Homo sapiens: one gene and its partners. The protein of the gene in region 1 interacts with the protein of each later gene in a pairwise test. Each region holds a gene or a part of one and is shown in the gene's direction. Other genes may lie near its edges.

Evidence for each region.
Region 2: the proteins of HSPB3 (region 1) and LSM14B interact in a two-hybrid assay, tested with the Homo sapiens proteins (one large-scale study listed by IntAct).
Region 3: the proteins of HSPB3 (region 1) and OLFML3 interact in a two-hybrid assay, tested with the Homo sapiens proteins (one large-scale study listed by BioGRID and IntAct).
Region 4: the proteins of HSPB3 (region 1) and BBOX1 interact in a two-hybrid assay, tested with the Homo sapiens proteins (one large-scale study listed by BioGRID and IntAct).
Region 5: the proteins of HSPB3 (region 1) and PRP4K interact in a two-hybrid assay, tested with the Homo sapiens proteins (one large-scale study listed by BioGRID and IntAct).

What each region holds. Positions count from the first base shown.
Region 1 is NC_000005.10:54,453,782-54,457,266, forward strand, and holds HSPB3 (heat shock protein beta-3), read left to right. Parts: upstream 1-1,917; 5' UTR 1,918-2,008; coding exon 2,009-2,461; 3' UTR 2,462-2,596; downstream 2,597-3,485. UniProt on the Homo sapiens protein: Inhibitor of actin polymerization.
Region 2 is NC_000020.11:62,125,206-62,129,651, forward strand, and holds part of LSM14B (protein LSM14 homolog B), read left to right. Parts: intron 1-1,020; coding exon of another isoform or gene 1,021-1,098; coding exon 1,099-1,234; intron 1,235-2,379; coding exon of another isoform or gene 2,380-2,496; intron 2,497-3,719; coding exon of another isoform or gene 3,720-3,827; intron 3,828-4,446. UniProt on the Homo sapiens protein: mRNA-binding protein essential for female fertility, oocyte meiotic maturation and the assembly of MARDO (mitochondria-associated ribonucleoprotein domain), a membraneless compartment that stores maternal mRNAs in oocytes.
Region 3 is NC_000001.11:113,977,323-113,982,552, forward strand, and holds OLFML3 (olfactomedin-like protein 3 isoform 1 precursor), read left to right. Parts: upstream 1-2,151; 5' UTR 2,152-2,194; coding exon 2,195-2,308; intron 2,309-2,401; exon of another isoform or gene 2,402-2,750; coding exon of another isoform or gene 2,751-2,804; intron 2,805-2,880; exon of another isoform or gene 2,881-3,009; coding exon 3,010-3,295; intron 3,296-3,626; coding exon 3,627-4,447; 3' UTR 4,448-4,931; downstream 4,932-5,230. UniProt on the Homo sapiens protein: Secreted scaffold protein that plays an essential role in dorsoventral patterning during early development. Stabilizes axial formation by restricting chordin (CHRD) activity on the dorsal side.
Region 4 is NC_000011.10:27,043,357-27,047,802, forward strand, and holds part of BBOX1 (gamma-butyrobetaine dioxygenase), read left to right. Parts: intron 1-2,885; exon of another isoform or gene 2,886-3,048; intron 3,049-3,829; exon of another isoform or gene 3,830-3,956; intron 3,957-4,446. UniProt on the Homo sapiens protein: Catalyzes the formation of L-carnitine from gamma-butyrobetaine.
Region 5 is NC_000006.12:4,052,195-4,056,640, forward strand, and holds part of PRP4K (serine/threonine-protein kinase PRP4 homolog), read left to right. Parts: intron 1-525; coding exon 526-679; intron 680-3,358; coding exon of another isoform or gene 3,359-3,382; exon of another isoform or gene 3,383-4,058; intron 4,059-4,126; coding exon 4,127-4,241; intron 4,242-4,332; exon of another isoform or gene 4,333-4,446. UniProt on the Homo sapiens protein: Serine/threonine kinase involved in spliceosomal assembly as well as mitosis and signaling regulation. Connects chromatin mediated regulation of transcription and pre-mRNA splicing.

The sequences.
Region 1 (3,485 bases):
GGTGTGATGGCAGACGCCTATAGTCCCAGCTACTCAGGAGGCTGAGGCAGGAGAATCACTTGAACCTAGGAGGTGGAGGTTGCAGTGAGCCAAGATGGCACTACTGCACTCCAGCCTGGGCAACAGAGCGACACTCCATCTCAAAAAAATAAATAAATAAATAAAATAAAAAGCACACACTATCACAAAGAAGATGGTGGCAAAAATAATAATAAAAATAGTAAGTAAATAAATAGCACAGAAGTATTTACAGTAAAAAATTAGGTCTCCTTCCAGCCCCCACCTGCCAATCACTCTCAGGAGGCACCCACTGTCTTCAGCTACAAAGCTTTCAGAGAGATTTTATTAATATAAGCAAATACATACTTTTTAAAAAAGTATAAATAAGGCCTGGTGCAGTGGCTCACGTCTGTAATTCCAGCACTTTGGGAGGATGAGGTGGAAGGATCTCTTCAGGCCAGGAGTTAGAGACCAGCCTGGGCAACATAACAAGACCCCCATCTCTAAAAAAACAATCAAAAAAACTAACTGGGCATGGTGGCATGGTTCTATAGTCCCAGCTACTCAGGAAGCTGAGAGTGAGGGATTTCTTGATTCCAGGACTTCGAGGCTGTCACCCACTCCAGCTTGGGTGACAGAGCAAGACTCTGTCTCAAAAAAAAAAAAAGTATAAACACTAGCATATCATATATTGCCCTGGACTTTTCTTTTTGATTTAACATATCTTGGAGATTCTTCCATAGCTGTGGATAAGGAGTTGCCTCATTCTTTTTCAGGGTAAGTTTAGTATAAAGGGTGATATAGTGGGGAAATTATATTTAATTTATTTTTGCCAACTCAGTAGCAGAGCTGTGACAAGATTAATCCTTAGATTTTTGGAGGTTCATATCAAATCATTCAAAGCTTTGACATTTTTCTCTTCTTTGTGGCTCTATTTTCATCACTAAAATTCCCCATCCTATGCCCCTGCAGCCCCCATCTGACGTTTGTCACTTCTCTAGCTTAGTCATCTGATCTAATTTTGATGAGTCAGATGTAAATAAACCCAGATAATGTGTCTTTTAGCCCAAAAGACTAAAAGATAAAATAAAAGGAAATGCATAGGACACAGGGCAGTTTGTTGAATGGCTGAGATTTGAATATGTGTGTATTAATTCTTTCTGAATTACAGCTAGATTCTGCCCTCCCCAGCTTTGTATCTGGAGACGAGGGAAAATGTGATCCCAGTTCATATTATGAGTGAACATCTCTGACTGTTCTAAGAAGTCCTATTCCCTTAGATTACTGAAGTTCACAGGGAGAAAGCACCCACCCAGATATTTTTGGTTTTTGTTTGTTTGTTTGTTTGTTGAGATGGAGTCTCACTCTATTGCCCAGGCTAGAGTGCAACGGTATGGTCTTGGCTCGCTGAAACCTTTGCCTCCTGGTTCAAGCGATTCTCCTACCTCAACCTCCCAAGTAGCTAAGATTTCAGACATAAGCCACCATGCCCAGCTAATTTTTGTGTTTTTAGTACAGACAGGGTTTCACCACATTGTTCAGGCTGGGCTTGAACTCCTGACCTCAGGCGATCCACCCGCCTCAGCCTCCCGAAGTGCTGGGATTACAGGCATGAGCCACCGCACCTGGCCTCACCCAGATATTTTTCAAATACCATTTTCGATTCCCACTCTCTTTCTTGAAGTAAGCAAGGCAGACACATTTGCCAAGGATAACTGAGAATGTAAGGGCAATCCATGACTGGGCAGCTTGTGCAGGCTGTGTGCTAAATGCACTGGGAAACATGCCCTATAAATAGCCGTTCATTGTCAGCATGTGTGAAAAGACAAGAGAGCATTCCGTGCTATGATTCAGGCCTAATTAAGTGATTGCGTCTGGGCACGGCTATAAACCACTAGCTGCTTCAACTGGTAATCCAGTCAGTAGGCAACTGCAGGGGCTCGCCACTGACTGAAGGCAGTGGAAGGTTGGCAGAAGGAGGCTGTTCAAGGCTGTTTTTGCCTTCACTATGGCAAAAATCATTTTGAGGCACCTCATAGAGATTCCAGTGCGTTACCAGGAAGAGTTTGAAGCTCGAGGTCTAGAAGACTGCAGGCTGGATCATGCTTTATATGCACTGCCTGGGCCAACCATCGTGGACCTGAGGAAAACCAGGGCAGCGCAGTCTCCTCCAGTGGACTCAGCGGCAGAGACGCCACCCCGAGAAGGCAAATCCCACTTTCAGATCCTGCTGGACGTGGTCCAGTTCCTCCCTGAAGACATCATCATTCAGACCTTCGAAGGCTGGCTGCTGATAAAAGCACAACACGGAACCAGAATGGATGAGCACGGTTTTATCTCAAGAAGCTTCACCCGACAGTACAAACTACCAGATGGTGTGGAAATCAAAGATTTGTCTGCAGTCCTCTGTCATGATGGAATTTTGGTGGTGGAAGTAAAGGATCCAGTTGGGACTAAGTGACATCGTATCGGTTCCTGTTCAGATGACATGGGGAAGATGATGGTTCAGCCACTGGTACTACGAGAATGTTTGTATTACCCACATTTGAAATGATTTGCTATGATTTTTATGAAGATTAAAAATATATACACAGTTCCTGGTATGTTGAGGTTGTCTTTATTATTCTTACTCAGAAAGGAAAATTTGTAAATATGTTTGTGTGGCTCAAACTGATACTATTCTTACAACTGAAACATTGAAAATACAGAAGGCTGTATTTGGATATTAGAGAGGACTCCGAATTGTTTCTTATTATTCCAACAATGCCAGCTGCATTTGTAATCACTGATGGCAAAAGAGCTATACCCATTTAAGGAATTCCTATCCATTTTATGAAAATCTTTTATTTTGCCAAAAAGAGTTGTGATTCCCTTCACTCGATAAGCTTTTCTTTTTAATGTATTTTAATTAAAATGAGGTTTTATAAATATGGAGTGCAAAAATTAAAATACAGTATTTGGAAATTGGGTCTGATATCTATTTATGATTTAGTATAGTTGTTACTGCCTTAAAGGTCAATGGGAATTTTCAGATATAAATCTTATTTTTAAAAAGTTCAAATATGTACCTCATTCATCTTTTTAAAGATATACTGAATCCTATCTGAAGTGTTTTGACTTTTTAAAGATAGTATAAGTTCTATGGACACGTACAAAATGTTCATGAGATATGTATTTACATATCCTCTTGTAAATTAATATGAAGCTTAAGGACACCACTTTTAAAAGTTTGATTGCTGAATTCAGTGAGTTTTAATCTGTGCTTTTTAGATGCTCCATAAACTTAGATGGCAAAATGTAACACATCTGCTATCTCTGCATAATCCTTAGCTTTAAATAGCCTGGCAGCCAATGGAAGTTCAACACCTGAGCTTACACTGCGTGTCTGAGTTTACACAGCACATCTGATGATTGGTGCTTATTATATTCTCCCAAACTACTGCCTTGGCTCAAGGTGGAGACATTGGTAGAGGTTAAGGACTAGT
Region 2 (4,446 bases), on another chromosome or scaffold:
GCTTAACTTTTGTCCAGGCTGTTGCTGCTCTCACAGAAGGTGTTGATTCTTGTAGCACACACAGTAGGTGGTGTGTGCTGTGTCACGTGGCTCTTAAGGAAGGCGACCTGGGGAGTTGGGTGTGCATGTGCGCGTGTGTAGTGTAGTGTGGTATGAGTGGATGCTCCTGGACCTGTGATGTTTCGGGCATAGCGTTTGCCCTTAGTTTCTGGTTGGAGAAGTCTGAGCCCTGAGCAGCTGCTGTGAGTGGCGTGACCTACCTGCAGGGACTGCAGGGCTTGCCCTCGGGTTACGCCCAGTCGTTACATGCTGCTGTTATACAACACCAGATTTGCAAGTCTGATGCCATGTGCCTGCTTATTGGGTTATGGCTTATTTTGCCCATGCTCCCCCAGGGAGCCCAGATTAATATTTTCTTCACTTCTAAATTTAAATATTCACTAGCTCCTCTGGGGTTCAGACTGCATTAGGTTCTGTGCTGAGCACCCATCCTGGAAGGTGGGATCACACAGGGCCGGCTTTGGGAGCAGTGGGAAGCCATCCGATGGCTTTGAGTTAGGAGAAATTTGGGTTAGAATTACATGGACAAGACACCTGTAATCCCAGCACTTTGGGAGGCCGAGGTGGGCAGATCACCTGAGGTCAGGAGTTCAAGACCAGCTTGGCCAACATAGCAAAACCGCGTCTCTACCAAAAATACAAAAATTAGCTGGGTGTGGTGGTGGGCATCTGTAATCTCAGCTACTCGGGAGGCTGAGGCTGGGAGAATCGCTTGAACCTGGGAGGCAGAGGTTGCAGTGAGCTGAGATCACGCCATTGCACTCCAGCCCAGGCGACAGAGCAATACTCTTTCAAAAAACAAAAAACAAAACAAAACAAAAAAAGGAATTACATGGACAGGTGAAACTGGAACTGAAATGCTGTGGAAAAGGCAGCTCTCACCATACTGGAAACTTGCACCCCAAGGGCTCCTCCAGCATCTCAAGGGTGCAGGCTGATGGGACGGTGCTTGTTTCCCAGCTGAACAAGCGCCCTGATGAAGGCGTGCGGGGTGATGGGATGGCCTTCGCCGTTCTCACCCGATGTCTCGTTGTTCAGTCTTCCCTGGGTTCTGCCTCCGCCTCGCCCTTCCAGCCGCACGTGCCTTACAGCCCTTTCCGAGGGATGGCGCCCTACGGCCCGCTGGCGGCCAGCTCCCTGCTCAGCCAGCAGTATGCCGCCTCCCTGGGTCTAGGTGAGTGACCTGTTTCTGTCTGGTAAACTACCCTTGCGTGTAACTGTCACTGAGTGGAGCGATGGAGCCTGAGGGTGGGGATATGCATTCCTGTCATGCTCAGCTTGTAGACTGTTTTGTTGCACACTTAGTAAATTACCCAGTGCAACTTCCGCTTGTGAGAGCATTTAGTAACTACTCAACTGAAAGTAAAAGAGGCAGCAGCCTGAGTGTTGGAACAGAAGAATCAAATCAAAATTCATTCGAAGAGTCAGGGCGGATCTAGGTGGAAGTCCTGGGCCAGGCATAGTGGCTCACTCCTGTAATCCCAGCACTTTAGGAGGCCAAGGCGGGTGGATCACAAGGTCAGGAGTTCGAGACCAGCCTGGCCAACATGGGGAAATCCTGTCTCTACTAGAAATACAAAAATTAGCTGGGTGTGGTGGGACACACCTGTAATCCCAGCTACTTGGGGGGTTGAGGCATGAGAATTGCTTAAACCTGGGAGGCAGAGGTTGCAGTGAACTGAGATTGCACCACTGCACTCTAGCCTGAGCGGCACAGTGAGACTCTGTCTCAAAAAATAAATAGGTGGAAGTCCTGGTATATCTGCTTCAAAGAAGAAATAGCTGATATATATGTAGTATTACAGATGAAGTCTAGCTGTTTGCACATTTATAAGCCTGTAAATATAGACGTGAAATACAAACCCACCCATCATGTCCCTTATTCTACTGTAAGTGCCTCGCTCAAAAATGGTTTCAACCAAGATTGAAAAACCCCAGAGTATGATTCTATTCTCCATATGTAGAGAAAGATCCTGCCTTGTCCTTAACCTGGACCTAGCTTTGCAGATGGGCTCAGAGTGTAGAATTGGCAGGTGATCCACGACCCTTGCTCAGAATCCAGCATGAAGTAGTGAGACAGGGAACCCTAAACGAGGTCTGTAGGCCACTTGCTGCTACAAATCATGCTTGCTTGGTTGCTATTCCTAGTGTGACAGGCGGCCTTCCCAGCCCAGCTCTCTGGGTTTCTAAAACGTGTTTGTATGACAGAATCCTACAAGAGGTTGCTTGGCTCTTTCCAAGCTTGCTAGACACAAGACAAGTGTATCCTGACTTATTTGTGTGCTTTCTTTTTGCTCTTTCTCCTTTATCTTCCTTTAGAGAAGTTGGTAAGCCCTCCAGCCTCAGCCGCTGCTTCCAGCCCTAGCTCTTCTCCATCTCCACAGCCCGTTTCAGAGCTTGACTTGTCCTCAGAGCCACAGCAGCTCACTGCCAAGGGTAACAGCAGTTTGGGAGAACTGCATGCTGTCTTGCAAACCATTCTGAGAGCGAGGGGTAAAGCAGCAGACAGAATGACAGTAGCTGTAGCAGATCATTTGCCAAGCCCATGCAGCCGCTGAGCTGCTTGTTTTGCTTCAGCATGTAGTCCTGATTGATGAACTCTCAGTGTTAAAGAAGGGATTACGAAGAATCAGCGGAGTAGTTTGTTCTCTCTCCCTGGGTCCAGGTTCTCTGTTGACCTGTACCATGACTACCACATACGGGAAACTTCACTGTTCACAGAAAGTCATTTCCCTGGGGTTTTTGCTGGGTCCTAAATGTGTTCCAGAGTGCTGCAGGGGGGACTCCCCAAAGCACCTGACATGCCTGTTTTGCTCTTTGATCCGTGTGGTTCATAGATCACTCATTGAGGGGATTCAAAATTAGGGGCTTGGGTGACAGTCGCCAACTGTTTGGCCAGGTGGACAGTATCAGCCTGATGGCCAGCTGGCCAGTGTACACCACCTGTCTCTGTGCTGTGGTGGTGGCGGCACCTGTGGGGTTTCTAGATCTTTTCTCACGTTCTACTCATTTCCCCTGAAGTTCTAAAATTCATATTGACGATCTTGCTGTATGTTTGTGTTACACATAGCACCCTGACAAGCTGAACCATCGCCATTACCCGGCCCTGGTCCAGGTTGATGCCTGGGCTTTCCTTATGGCACACAGCTGCTGTCAGTCTGTCATTCTGCAGGTGCTGCTTTCCAAATCCTGCATGCACTCTGTGTATCTGAGTTACAGAGTAGTCTTTTTTTTTCCCCCACTTAAAAATGACACAGATACTTCTATTGCTCTTAGGATCAGTTACCTAAACCTGCTCATAGGGCAAGACTTTGTTTGAACTAGTTGGTTGTGTAAAAAGCAGACAAGCCCCTTATCCATGCCCCTGCAGTCACAGTATGATCAGCAGGCAGGCAGTGCTGTGTTTGTCTCCCGGACATGCTGAGTGAGACAATCAGTGAGAAAGTGGCCCGGGTGCATTCCCGCCAGAGGACACTTTCCAGACCTCTATGCAGAGTCGTTCCAACCTGCCCTTTGAGAGCTTCTCTTGATCTGGTTACAAGGAATTTTTCTACAGTCAATTTTTTTTTTCATTTCTATTCCGTAAAAGCAGTAAGATGAGATGCCCAGTCTTCATGTGTATTGGGCTGTTCGTCTAATAATAATTACCCTGTGGTTAGGGTGCCTTTTCTGTTTCAGATCTCTGTTCACTTACACCCAGTCCCACATTGTCCTGTTTAGAGTCCCTACAGGTCCTGGAACCTTGGAAAGGGAGGAGATGGAGAGAGGTGGGTGGTGCTTCCCATTTTCCTCCTGATTCAGAGGGCCTGGTTTCTGAGGGTTCATCCCCTGTGCGTGGGCCTCGGACTGCAGTTTCATAGGCATAGCCCCTTGCCAAAGGCTACCTAGGAGCCCTTTGTGTCTTCATGATGAGCCTTTGCCCTTGAGAGAAGTGTAGGCTGCTACGTCTCGGAAGTCAGCTCCTGCTTCATCATTTTTAGTTTTATTGTGCCTTAAGTGGAAATGACAGTGTTGTAGAATTTAACTTCAGAATTTGTTCACTGCATTTTCTAGAAAATCCCAGGCTGGGCTGGTTCTTCTCCAGTGTGGACCAGAATGAAACAAATTCTCAGATCCTGAATTCATCAGGATCTTGGGGCTGCTGAGCTCCTTTGGGATTGGAGCTTGTGTGGTTTTAAGAAAGCTGTTTCCACACTTCTGGGGAGGTGCCTGTTTGTAGGCACGGTGTTTTTCCTGTCCTTGAGGTTCCCTAACTTGGGAAGCTCAGGGCTTTGGGAGTGGGGAGTCCAAAGATGAACTGGCCTTGGTGCTGCCCAGTGACTCTTGGCCTTCTTTTGCTGCCTGGGCTAGCCTCAGAGGGAATGGCCCAGTCTGGGGGTGCTTTGC
Region 3 (5,230 bases), on another chromosome or scaffold:
GCTTGAAAAATAATCTCACTACATGTAGCAGTACATTATATGTACATTATATGTAATGTTAGTATTTCTGCTTTGAATCCTTGATATTGCAATGGAATTCCTACTTTATTAAATGTATTTGATATGCTAGTTATTGTGTGCGATTTAAACTTTTTTTGCTTTCTCCCTTTTTTTGGTTGTGCGCTTTCTTTTACAACAAGCCTCTAGAAACAGATAGTTTCTGAGAATTACTGAGCTATGTTTGTAATGCAGATGTACTTAGGGAGTATGTAAAATAATCATTTTAACAAAAGAAATAGATATTTAAAATTTAATACTAACTATGGGAAAAGGGTCCATTGTGTAAAACATAGTTTATCTTTGGATTCAATGTTTGTCTTTGGTTTTACAAAGTAGCTTGTATTTTCAGTATTTTCTACATAATATGGTAAAATGTAGAGCAATTGCAATGCATCAATAAAATGGGTAAATTTTCTGACTTATGTGGCTGTTTTTGACTTCTGTTATAGGATATAAAGGGGATCAATAAATGACATCTTTGAAAGTGGCTAAGCATATTGTATTTGAACATCAGTAGAGTACTAGAGACAATTTCATTCTTCACACAAATCTCCATACTGGAAATGAATAGGGTTTGGCAGGGAATACTTCCCAAGAATGCAGTGTCCAGGGTCCTTACTTCACATCATCTGGATCTGACCCTTTGAAAGAGGTAGAAGACTTCTGAGACCGGCTAATTAAGCTTTGTTTCCTCATATGTTTTGCCAGATAGCAGTAGCAGAATGAAAAGATGAGTAACCACAGGAAGCTGCTATTTTTCCCCTCCTTTCAAACTGTACTGTTAGAGTCATGGTCCTTTTTACAGAAGGAACCTCTCATCAGATTCTGTTGATTCTAAAGTGAATAGAATTTCTCCCGATAAAGAAATAGGGGTTTGTTTCGATTAATGACTGCAGGTCTCTGAGTAAATGCTCTATTTGATTTTTTTTTTCGGCCCGTGTGTCTACCTTATGGCCCAAGTCTACCTTATGGTGGCCATTAATTCATTTTGGGCTCCTGCAGCCTTAGTTGGGATATAGAAATGAGAAACACTCAGAAATACCCTTTTGGACCACAACCAAGAGAAATAACCAATAGTCTTTTCTCCCAGTGGTAAGGAAGTCAGAATACATTGATCTAGACTGCAACAACATATATATATATATCAGATTCCGCCCCCCCGCAATACATGAATGTATAGTAAATTAGTGTGAACTCACTGAACACTCCTCAGTTTTGGTGAGAGACTATATCTGGCCTCTTTCAAGCAAAGGAAAGCCATGTAAAACAGCGCTGCTGTCAGCCTTAACTTCCAGACGATCGAGTTAATTTACTAACTTCTCAGTGACCTGTTTTTTTTTTTTTTTTAATCTCAGTTATATTTTCTTCCTTGGGCTAAATCAGATATTTGCATAGCCCCCAAAGTAGTAATTGGATAGTCTTGGGGGAAATATGCATTTCAGTGGTGAAAACCCCTGTAAATTCAATATATTTGGCTTTTGTGGAAAATTTTCCTCATGGGGTGAAGTCTAAGCCTTAGTTTCTGTATTATCATGAGAGATGACACCAGCTGCTTAGCACAAGGTGGCGCCAATGAGCTTTAGAATAAGTTGGGCTTGACCACTTGGGCCATTGTTTTCCTGCTTCCTCCCTTCAAGCCTCACCTCCCCAGCTCCCAGCTTCTACTGAACAAGGCTGAAAACCCACTCTATTGCAGGGAAAGGGAAAGATTAATGAAAAATGTCAGTTTCTTAAGTCAGCACTGGTGAAACTTTCCTAAAACAGGAATGGCGTTTGCTGAGTTTTCTCTGGGGTCTCTGCTTTCTGCAGCTAGCTTCCCTGCTTGACTGCCTAGAAGGCCTCTGCTTTCGGGTTTCCATCTCTTTCCCCTCCAGAGGACCCTACAGCCTAGGCGGGAGGTGGTTAAGGCTTCTGGCTGCTGTGCAATGGGGCCATCTGTGTTTGATCAATCCTGGCGGAAAGGAGGGGGTGGGGGTTGTAAAGAGAACTGAAAGCATTCCAGAGTAGTGAGAGAGACCCAGAGATCAGGAGAGAAGGCACCGCCCCCACCCCGCCTCCAAAGCTAACCCTCGGGCTTGAGGGGAAGAGGCTGACTGTACGTTCCTTCTACTCTGGCACCACTCTCCAGGCTGCCATGGGGCCCAGCACCCCTCTCCTCATCTTGTTCCTTTTGTCATGGTCGGGACCCCTCCAAGGACAGCAGCACCACCTTGTGGAGTACATGGAACGCCGACTAGCTGCTTTAGAGGTGAGGGACCCCTTTCTCTTCTAGCCCCGCCTAGAAGGATTCCAGGGCTATTGGTTCAACCAGTTTGTTAGGGATCTGGGGATAACAAGAAAGGGCTCTGTTAGAGTCTACAGAAAATTCTCTCTTAATAAGAGGACCTTCGGAATGACAAGCCCTCCTCTTACCCCACATAGAACAATTCCAAAGCAAATCGACTTTTGCGTTTTACCTCTGGGATTAGATAGAATAAGGGGGCAGAGTGGAAACGAGAGCCAAAATTGTGGGGCTGCATCTCCAGAGAAGGTGATGATTCTGTTGAAGTTGGAGGTTCCCGGGGAATCTATAACTTCCTGTCTTTTTAACAGGTTGAGATCCGTAGCATTTTAGTGTCCGAGAGGATAATTGCTAAGGGAGCAGAGACCTCTTCACACCTTCATGCGCTTAGACCTGCCTAGAGGCTCAGATGGCTCAGTGGCACTGCTCACAGAGAACACAGGCTGGAGGACATGGAGTCGGGGTAGGGGCCTAGGTGAATCTCAGCTAGGCTCTTTGCACATTTAGCACCTCTGCACATCTGGTTTCCTTTTCTGCAGGAGTGGAAGGGGATATTGAAGCCTGGCTGAGTTTGCTCTTTTTTTCCCATTCCTGACTCCCGAGTTGGGCCTCTCCCTGCCTGGGAGTTGTAACCCTGCAGCCTCCCTCCTGATCCCCCATCCCTTCAGGAACGGCTGGCCCAGTGCCAGGACCAGAGTAGTCGGCATGCTGCTGAGCTGCGGGACTTCAAGAACAAGATGCTGCCACTGCTGGAGGTGGCAGAGAAGGAGCGGGAGGCACTCAGAACTGAGGCCGACACCATCTCCGGGAGAGTGGATCGTCTGGAGCGGGAGGTAGACTATCTGGAGACCCAGAACCCAGCTCTGCCCTGTGTAGAGTTTGATGAGAAGGTGACTGGAGGCCCTGGGACCAAAGGCAAGGGAAGAAGGAATGAGAAGTACGATATGGTGACAGGTAAATAATCTGAAAGCAGGCCCCTAACTCTTCTCAGAACCGATATTCTTCCTTCCTTGCTTCTTACTCTTTTTTTCGCTTTGTCCCAGTCCATTGTGGCTCTGTCTTCTGGAATCTGTTTTAGGGAAACCTCTGTAATGCCAGGTCTATTAAGGAGAGGTTCTGGGGATCCAGGCCGCTGTGGTACCCGCTCTTTCTCAATTCTCCCTAAGATTGGAGGCAACCACTGGGCAAATGCTCACTATTCTCCAGATCACCCACCCTGGGGGAGTTCCTGCTGGAGGCATCTAATTCTTGCCTCTATTTCCTTTTCCTGTGCTTTTCTCATCAGACTGTGGCTACACAATCTCTCAAGTGAGATCAATGAAGATTCTGAAGCGATTTGGTGGCCCAGCTGGTCTATGGACCAAGGATCCACTGGGGCAAACAGAGAAGATCTACGTGTTAGATGGGACACAGAATGACACAGCCTTTGTCTTCCCAAGGCTGCGTGACTTCACCCTTGCCATGGCTGCCCGGAAAGCTTCCCGAGTCCGGGTGCCCTTCCCCTGGGTAGGCACAGGGCAGCTGGTATATGGTGGCTTTCTTTATTTTGCTCGGAGGCCTCCTGGAAGACCTGGTGGAGGTGGTGAGATGGAGAACACTTTGCAGCTAATCAAATTCCACCTGGCAAACCGAACAGTGGTGGACAGCTCAGTATTCCCAGCAGAGGGGCTGATCCCCCCCTACGGCTTGACAGCAGACACCTACATCGACCTGGCAGCTGATGAGGAAGGTCTTTGGGCTGTCTATGCCACCCGGGAGGATGACAGGCACTTGTGTCTGGCCAAGTTAGATCCACAGACACTGGACACAGAGCAGCAGTGGGACACACCATGTCCCAGAGAGAATGCTGAGGCTGCCTTTGTCATCTGTGGGACCCTCTATGTCGTCTATAACACCCGTCCTGCCAGTCGGGCCCGCATCCAGTGCTCCTTTGATGCCAGCGGCACCCTGACCCCTGAACGGGCAGCACTCCCTTATTTTCCCCGCAGATATGGTGCCCATGCCAGCCTCCGCTATAACCCCCGAGAACGCCAGCTCTATGCCTGGGATGATGGCTACCAGATTGTCTATAAGCTGGAGATGAGGAAGAAAGAGGAGGAGGTTTGAGGAGCTAGCCTTGTTTTTTGCATCTTTCTCACTCCCATACATTTATATTATATCCCCACTAAATTTCTTGTTCCTCATTCTTCAAATGTGGGCCAGTTGTGGCTCAAATCCTCTATATTTTTAGCCAATGGCAATCAAATTCTTTCAGCTCCTTTGTTTCATACGGAACTCCAGATCCTGAGTAATCCTTTTAGAGCCCGAAGAGTCAAAACCCTCAATGTTCCCTCCTGCTCTCCTGCCCCATGTCAACAAATTTCAGGCTAAGGATGCCCCAGACCCAGGGCTCTAACCTTGTATGCGGGCAGGCCCAGGGAGCAGGCAGCAGTGTTCTTCCCCTCAGAGTGACTTGGGGAGGGAGAAATAGGAGGAGACGTCCAGCTCTGTCCTCTCTTCCTCACTCCTCCCTTCAGTGTCCTGAGGAACAGGACTTTCTCCACATTGTTTTGTATTGCAACATTTTGCATTAAAAGGAAAATCCACTGCTCCTCTCCTGTGTTTGTTTGGGGTAGCCCTCAGATCAAACTTCCCCCTGACCATCCAGTTTCTCCCTCCCAACCCATCCCCACTCCTTGAGCCATATTAAAGACTTGGGCGGGGCTCCCTTTGCTGAGGAAGAGTTTACTGTGAGGCGCCTGGGGGAGGTGGCAGAATCCCGCCACTTTAGGAGGCTGGACGAAAGGCCTCCTTCCACACCCACCGCCATCCACAGCAGCCAATCCACAGCAGCCATCCTAGAACCTCAGTGGCACCGTGCCTCTGGCTGTGAGACACTGGGGCCCAGGG
Region 4 (4,446 bases), on another chromosome or scaffold:
CCTGTCCTAATTTTTTTTAAGTTATACTTTTAAGTGCTGGGGTACATGTGCAGAATGTGCACGTTTGGGGTACATGTGCAGAATGTGCAGGTTTGGGGTACACGTGCAGAATGTGCAGGTATACACATGCCATGGTGGTTTGCTGCACCTATCAACGCGTCATCTACATTGAATACCCTTTATTTCTTTCTCTTGACTAATTGCCCTAGCATTTCTCCTAATGGTATCCCTCCCCTAGCCCCCTACCCCGCCACAGGCCCTGGTATGTGATGTTCCCCTCCCTGTGTCCATGTGTTCTCATTGTTCAAGTCCCACTTATGAGTGAGAACATGCAGTATTTGGTCTTCTGTTCTTGTGATAGTTTGCTGAGAATGATGGCTTCCAGCTTCCTCCATGTCCCTGCGGAGGACATGAACTCATCCTTTTTTATGGCTGCATAGTATTCCATGGTGTATATATGCCACATTTTCTTTATCCAGTCTATCATTGATGAGCATTTGAGTTGGTTCCAAGTCTTTGCCATTGTGAACAGTGCTGTAATAAACATACATGTGCACGTGTCTTTATAGTAGAATGATTTATAATCCTTTGGGTGTATACGCAGTAATGGGATTGCTGGGTCAAATGGTATTCCTGGTTCTAGATCCTTGAGGAATTGCCACACTGTCTTCCACAATGTTTGAACTACTTTATATTCCCACCAACAGTGTAAAAGTGTTCCTATTTCTCCACATCCTCTCTAGCATCTGTTGTTTCCTGACTTTTTAATGATCACCATTCTAACTGACATGAGATGGTATCTCATTGTGGTTTTGATTTGCATTTGTCTAATGACTAGTGACGATGAGCTTTTCTTCATATGTTTGTTGGCTGCATAAATGTCTTCTTTTGAGAAGTGTCTGTTCATATCTTTTGCCCATTTTTGATGGGTTTTTTTTTCTTGTAAATTTGTTGAAGTTCTTTGTAGATTCTGGATATTAGACCTTTGTCAGATGGATAGATTGCAAAAATTTTCTCCCATTCGGTAGGTTGTCTATTCACTCTGATGATAGTTCTGCTGTGCAGAAGCTCTTTAGTTTAATTAGATCCAGTTTGTCAATTTGGGCTTTTGTTGCCCTTGCTTTTGGTGTTTTAGTCATGAAGTCTTTGCCCATGCTTATGTCCTGAATGATATTGCCTAGGTTTTCTTCTAGGGTTTTTATGGTTTTAGGTCTTGCGTTTAAGTCTTTAATCCATCTTTAGTTAATTTTTGGATAAGGTGTAAGGAATGGATCCAGTTTCAGCTTTCTACATATGGCTAGCCAGTTTTCCCAACACCATTTATTAAATAGGAAATCCTTTCCCCATTGCTTGTTTTTGTCAGGTTTGTCAAAGATCAGATGGTTATAGATGTATGGCATTATTTCTGAGGCCTCTGTTTTGTTCCATTGGTCTATCTGTTTTTGCACCAGTACCATGCTGTTTTGGTTACTGTGGCCTTGTAGTATAGTCTGAAGTCAGGTAGCATGATGCCTCCAGCTTTGTCTTTTTGCTTAGGATTGTCTTGGCTATGTGGGCTCTTTTTTGGTTCCACATGAACTTTAAAGTAGTTTTTTCCAATTCTGTGAAGAAAGTCAATTATAGCTTGATGGGGATAGCATTGAATCTATAAATTACCTTGGGCAGTATGGCCATTTTCACGATATTGATTCTTCCTATCTATAAGCATGGAATGTTTTTCCATTGTTTGTGTCCTCTCTTATTTCCTTGAGCAATGGTTTGTAGTTCTCCTTGAAAAGGTCCTTCACATCCCTTCTAACTTGGATTCCTAGATATTTTATTCTCTTTGAAGCAATTGTGAATGGGAGTTCACTCATGATTTGGCTCTCTGTTTGTCTGTTATTGGTGTATAGGAATGCTTGTGATTTTTGCACATTGATTTTGTATCCCGAGACTTTGCTGAAGTTGCTTATCAGCTTAAGGAGATTTTGGGCTGAGAAGATGGGGTTTTCTAAATGTACAATTCATGTCATCTGCAAACAAAGACAATTTGACTTCTTCTTTTCCTAATTGAATACGCTTTATTTCTTTCTCTTGACTGATCACCCTGGCCAGAACTTCCAATACTATGTTGAATAGTAGTTGTGTCAGAGGGCATCCTTGTCTTGTGCCAGTTTTCAAAGAGAATGTTTCCAGTTTTTGCCCATTCAGTATGATATTGGCTGTGGGTTTGTCATAAGTAACTCTTATTATTTTGATATATATTCCTTCAATACCTAGTTTATTGAGAGTTTTTAGCATGAAGGGCTGTTGAATTTTATCGAAGCATCATACTTCTCCTGAGAAAGAGATGAAAATTAACAGATACTGACGTTTGCTAACATAGGTCTATGCTGGTCTTGTTTTCCATTTACTAAAAACACTCAAGAAATAACAGCCTTTTATTCTGAGGGATAAGTAATTTAGTAGATAAATCAGCCTTCTCAGGTACATATTAATCTACTACAATTTTAATTTTATGTATAATAACTATAAAGTTTCTGCATCTGCTTCCTGTGAATTCCCTCCAAAGCCTATGATTGAAATTAGTTGTAAGTAATGTTTGAAGAACTTTTGCAATTTCTTTTATGAGAACTTGAAGAGTATCACTTAATACATATAAACTTAGCTGGCAAATCCAGGTTTGGGGCAACCTTTCTCACTAATGAGCAGTGTGAGCCTGGACAAATCACACCCAACATTTCTGAGCTTCCATTTTCCCTGCATGTCTGATGAGGGCCCTGTGACCCAACAATAGCACAGGCTGTTTCTTTCTGGCTCTAAAAGCTCTAGCTCTAAGTTACTTTTATTTCCAAGATCAATGCATAAAATAAATTTCAGAGCTACTTTCTTGATTTTCCAAACAGTGCTGAAGAATCAGGAGACAAACTTGAATTTGTAATATTAAGAAAAAGAAAAAAAAGGAGAAAACCCACACCCATCACTGAAGTAATTTCAAAAACAAGCAATTTACTTGTGCCCAACAGAAGTCCCAGACAAACTTCTATTACTCTGAAGAGAAAAAATATGGTAGGTGAATAAATTAGGAGGGAAACACACCACAGACACACACACACACACACACACTACACACATGTATTAATATGAAGTAAAAGAAACCTATCCCATCAGATAAGAATATGCCAAAAATCCAAAGGCTGTTTTTCAGAACAGGTGAAACTACTGTTTCCCACCAAAACCAATCTGATATTTCATAAACTAAATTACAATTGTAAGAAGAAAAATAAGTGTAAAATAAGAATTTTTGTTTTATAGGTGTTCTTTAATTTGTCAAAGACATCCCACTGATAAAAATTCATCCTATATAGCTAGGAGCTATATATAGGAGCTATATCTAAATTTTTCTTTTCTTCAGAGAAACAGAGTAGCTTATCATCTAACTAAATTGCTATGGTGCTTCAACTGAGCTCAATTCTAACAAGTCAAGTTGGTTAAATTACAAAAACAGATTTCAACAAATCATGTTAACATACAAGCTATAATTTTCAGAAAGCATTTGCTTTTAAACACTGATGATCTGCAATTTTTTTTTTAATTTTCATCACATTTGCCCCAGTAGACCTTTAAATAATCCAGAAAAAGTTAAAGTGGGAACTTATTTTCCCATTTTGCCCTGCTTTTGTTTTGATTACCTTTCACGTTTATCATAAATTTAAGAAAGGGATTGTGAAGAGAAGGAATGACCCACTAAGTTTCTACAGAGATACCTAAGTAATTTAACATCAGCAACACCCAAGTCTTTCCAGTTCTTCCACATTCTCCCATGTGCCTTGGGCACCCTCCAATCAGACACTATCCTGACATCGCCTCTCTTGGAACACCTTCCTCAGGACATCCATTTGGCAAAATGGGTTGGAAAGAATGGTCTCAGGTTCCCCCAGTGATTGGAAATGTGCTTCTGCCTCTCTCATTCAAACCTAGGTAGAAGAAGAAAAAGAAAAAAACAGATAGAAAGCTCAAAACAGCAGTCTGAAATGTAATTAATGTTTCTTGGCACAGATGTCTATAGGAGTGATCACTTCAATAGTTGGTGTGACATGGGCACACCACCATCTTTAAGCAGAGGAACCATGTTCCTCATGGTAGAAAATGCACCCCTGGACTGGGTATTCATTAAGTATTAGTGTTTCACATTTCAAGTTATATAAAAATACTTTCAGCCAAAAAATTTTCAAACACATGAATGAATATATTTTTTAAAATGTATTGAGTTTAATATATATATCAGCACACAAAGAACTTCATAAAAATAAATAAGAATAATTTTTAAATGGTCTTATTCCTACAAGAACCTAAGATAAATCATCCGTATGCTAGTATTTCCTAGCCTCTTTCTACTTCTGTTTTTTGGGGTAATTACAGTAGATTTTTTCTTTGGCTTGAAATGAGGATTCAATGAGTTATTAT
Region 5 (4,446 bases), on another chromosome or scaffold:
TTTGTTTTATCCACACAGCTCTGGTTTTTGTTTTTAACTTGTGGTTAACAGCTAGTCTTTGTTGTTGTTGTTGTTGTTGTTGTTGAGACAGTCTCACTCTGTTGCTCCTCCCGGAGTACAGTGGTGCAGTCTTGGCTCGCTGCAACCTCCACCTCCCGGGTTCAACAGAGAGTCTCTCTTAAAATGAAATACTTCAAGGAAGGAATTTTTATCTTCAACAGTGTGGCTTTGTTGTGTTTTCAGATGTGAATCTATTCTAAAATCGAAATGGGAGTTTTACCTTGCATATCTTTCTTCTTACCTATTTAGAAAATTTGAATTTATTCAGAAACTGTGTTATATACATACAATTTGATATGCTCTCCTTTCAATATAAAATGATTTATCAAATGTGGGGGTGGTTCTTACATATTTTTATTTTGCGCTTGATTTTACTTTATGCTTGCAAATGTTTTTGCCTTTTTATATTTCCATTTTGCATTTTAACTCCTATTTTGTTTTCTTTTTTTAATTTTCTCCTAAAAGCATGAACTTACGAGAGGTGTTAAAAAAATATGGTAAAGATGTTGGTCTTCATATTAAAGCTGTAAGATCCTATAGTCAGCAGTTGTTCCTGGCATTGAAACTCCTTAAAAGATGCAATATCCTACATGCAGATATCAAGCCAGACAATATCCTGGTAAGTCAAACAGCCAAGCTGCGCTGTACATCTTGAACATACATTTCACTTCTTACTAGCAGTAATATTATTACTATGAGAAACGACATCTTAGAAGCATAGTTCAGTATATTAATAACCTATTTCAAATGACTAATACTTTTTTATCTTTCTTGGAAATCGGACAGTGAAATTTTATTGACAAGTATGAAGAAAAAGGAAATGTACAATTGTCCCTTTTTTTCTCTTTTGACTGATAGATTTAAAGTGTGCACCAATCCTGGAATGCTTTACTGTAGTAATGAGTTTCTTCTGTTATCTTTAGAAAAATGCTGCACATGTTGCTGTTTTGAAATAAGGAGTGTCCGTACTCTTCTGTTTGCTAATTTTATAGCTCCCTAAGCTGTGGCTCCTGGGGGCTCAAACACAATAAAGCTCAGTTGTGGTTAGGTATTATATTTAAAGGCATCGCTTTTGAAGTTTATTTTATTTTATTTTTAAACTTTCAAGTTCAGGGGTACATGTGCAGGCTTGTTACATAGGTAAACTTGTGTCATGGAGGGTTTGTACCCACTTTTCCTGATCCTCTCCCATCTCTCACCCTCCAGCCTCTGACGGACCCCAGTGTGTATTGTTCCCCTGTGTGTCCATGTGTTCTCACCTTTTGAAACCTTAATTCTCTTCGACTAGTGACTTCTGGTGGTAACAGCAGATTTCACAATGTATATGTTTTTAAAATTTTGAAATACATACATATTATCATAGTGATGTGATTAATGCACACACACACTCCTCCCCTCCCTGGCCCCATTACTTTACCCTGTTTTGTGGCCTTCAGTTTGGGTCGTGTTCGCAACTTGGAGAATTCCAGCTTATATGCTGGTAACATTCTGCATTTCATTTTTTTAAAATGGGTTCTCTTTATCAGTTCTCCTACAGTTGATGCCTAGGAGAGATCCTGAAGACTAAAAGCTAAGCGTGTAAGGTGTTCTTTATTGGGAACTCTTGGAGCTATAACAAAATAAATACTTTTGATTTTTTCTTTTGTTTTTTTTGTTTTGTTTTGTTTTGTTTTGAGGTAAGGTCTTGTTCTGTCACCCAGGCTAGAGTGCAGTGGTGCCATAATGGCTCACTGTAACCTCCAACTCCTAAGCCCAAGCAGTTCTCCTGCCTCCGCCTCCCCAGTAGCTGGGACTACCCACAGGCACATGCCACTGTGACTGCCTAATTAAAAAAAATTTTTTTTAGAGATGAGGTTTGGCTGGTCTCAAACTCCTGGGCTCAAGCAATCCTCCTGCTGCAGCCTCCCAAAGTGCTGGGATTATAGGTGTGAGCTACCATGCTTGGCCAAGATAAATTCTTTAAAAAATGGTGATCTCATTAAAGTTTAAGGAGTTTTTTTTTAATCAATAACTAAGCTATTTAATTCATATTTCTTTTTCTTTTTTGTTAATATCTTAAAATATTTCCTTTATTTCCTTCCAGACAACCACATTAGTAATGAGGTGTATTCCATTTTTATGTTTGGTCTGAATTATTATTGTATTGTATATCTAATGTAACTTGGAGTTAGGGGAGCTGAGTAATTTCATTGAAATGGTAGGTACATTAAAAATGAAGTATAAATTTGTGTGGCCAATTTCATAGTTGATTTTTACCTCAGTTTTTTTTATGAGACACAGCCTTGCCCTGTTACCAGGCTGGAGTGCAATGGCGTGATCTCGGCTCACTGCAACCTCCAACTCCCTGGTTCAAGCATTTCTCCTGCCTCAGCCTCCCGAGTAACTGGGATTACAGGCAGGGGCCACCACGCCCAGCTAATTTTTGTATTTTAGTAGAGACGGGGTTTCACCATGTTGGCCAGGATGGTCTTAATCTCCTAACCTCGTGATCTGCCCGCCTCGTCCTCCCAAAGTGCTGGGATTATAAGCGTGAGCCAATTTTTTGTTTTTTAATTGTGAAATACATGGTTCATGTCAAAGAATATGCAAAACATGTACAATTTAAAAGGTCATTTACAGTGAGCGTCTTTGTGACCATTGTGGAGGTTAAAGAATAACACATTTGCCAGTGTCACAGAAGAAACTCTTGTTTTTAAAACCTAATGCTAAACTAGTATAGGTTTTCACATACATTTAAGAAATGTTTTCCCGTCTTCCTGGGGAAGGAAAAAATAGACCTTAATGACGGAGCTGATTTTTGTTAATGAAAATCCAAAGCCTTTAGCTCGTAATTTCAGGTATCAGTGTGGTTTAAGTACCACATTCCTCATGACAGGAGCAGAAGTTGTGTAGCAAACTGAAGTGCATATGAGTATGGATACCCTGCTATTCTTTAAGGCATTTTAGCCAGCCCAAGAGTTCCACTGATGGATTCTAATTTTAAAATGGTTCTTAAGTTTTCTGTGGGTATTGAAACTGCTTAAGTAGCTGAATTCAGCTTACACTTTAAAAAGTTTTAAAATAACTTTTCTATTTTAAGATGCTTTTCTGATTCCCAAGATGAAAAGAATAGTAATCAATGTGGGAGTTAAAAATAATCATTTCTGTTCCTATTAATAGCTTAACTCTGGATATCATTTATAATAGTCCAGTCTCCCCATAGAGACTGCCTAAGGCTATAGTGTTATGCTGCTTTGGGGTGGGAGCAGTAGGCCAAGTTCAAGTCCCAACTCGGAATTTGTGTGTGTCTCTTTTGAAGGGGGGAAGGGACTCTGGAATATGAATTATCTTCACTTGTTAATCCTGAACATGCCTCTGACTCATGAGTGGCAGCAGTCATGGGAGCAACTCCAGCCTTTCTCAGCAGATGTCACTATTACTGTGTATGTTGAAGTATTTACAAAGGAAAAAAGAAACAAATGACTAATATAGAGTTCATGTTTATCAGTTTTGCCAGATATATTTAACATTTTCTTGACTAATACCTTCTTTATATTTGAGGGATTTAATATTTTTTAGACTTGAAGTGATTGCTAAATTTGGGATCATATAGCAGCTTCGGATGAAGAATATTTTGTTTTTGTCCAAGTTTATTCTGAATCACCCTTCTGCTTTCATTGCCATTGTAATTCTCTGGCAACTGAAAGTTAAGTCTGATTCCTTAGTTATAAAACTTGACTTTATTCAGGTATTCAGGGTCTTTTTAGAAGATGCTTTGCTTCATGAAATTAGATTTTTCTCTCAGTACCCCACCCTTTTAAAAATGCAGTTGTTAAAATTAAATGTACTTTGTGATATCCATTTCCTCACTGAAAACAGTTTTTACTCATTGTAATGAATATTTGATACATATTAACTTTTCATAGTTAGGAAATTGAATTAAAAATAAATAGAAAAGGAATTTTTAAATGAATGTCTTTGTTCTCAGTATTGGAATTAATAAAACTTTTCAAAGCCAATAATTTTTATTTATTTGTATTAATTATTCCTGGCTTGAATTAAATTCCCTTGAAAAAATGTTTTGCAGGTTAATGAATCCAAAACTATTTTAAAGCTTTGCGATTTTGGGTCGGCTTCACATGTTGCGGATAATGACATAACACCTTATCTTGTCAGTAGATTTTATCGTGCTCCTGAAATCAGTAAGTTTCTTAATGTTCTTTGACCTGGGCCATCATATGTGGTGGAAACCGCATACTTAATGTCTAAGCACTGTTTTCCATCACACTTCAGCAGCTGCACGAGTTCATTCATGAGGAAGGGAACCATAGCAAGTTCATCCTCCTCAGGTGGAATGAAGGTAGTTGTGACAGGAGTCTTGATCATGTCGGGCAAGAGTAGCAAAAC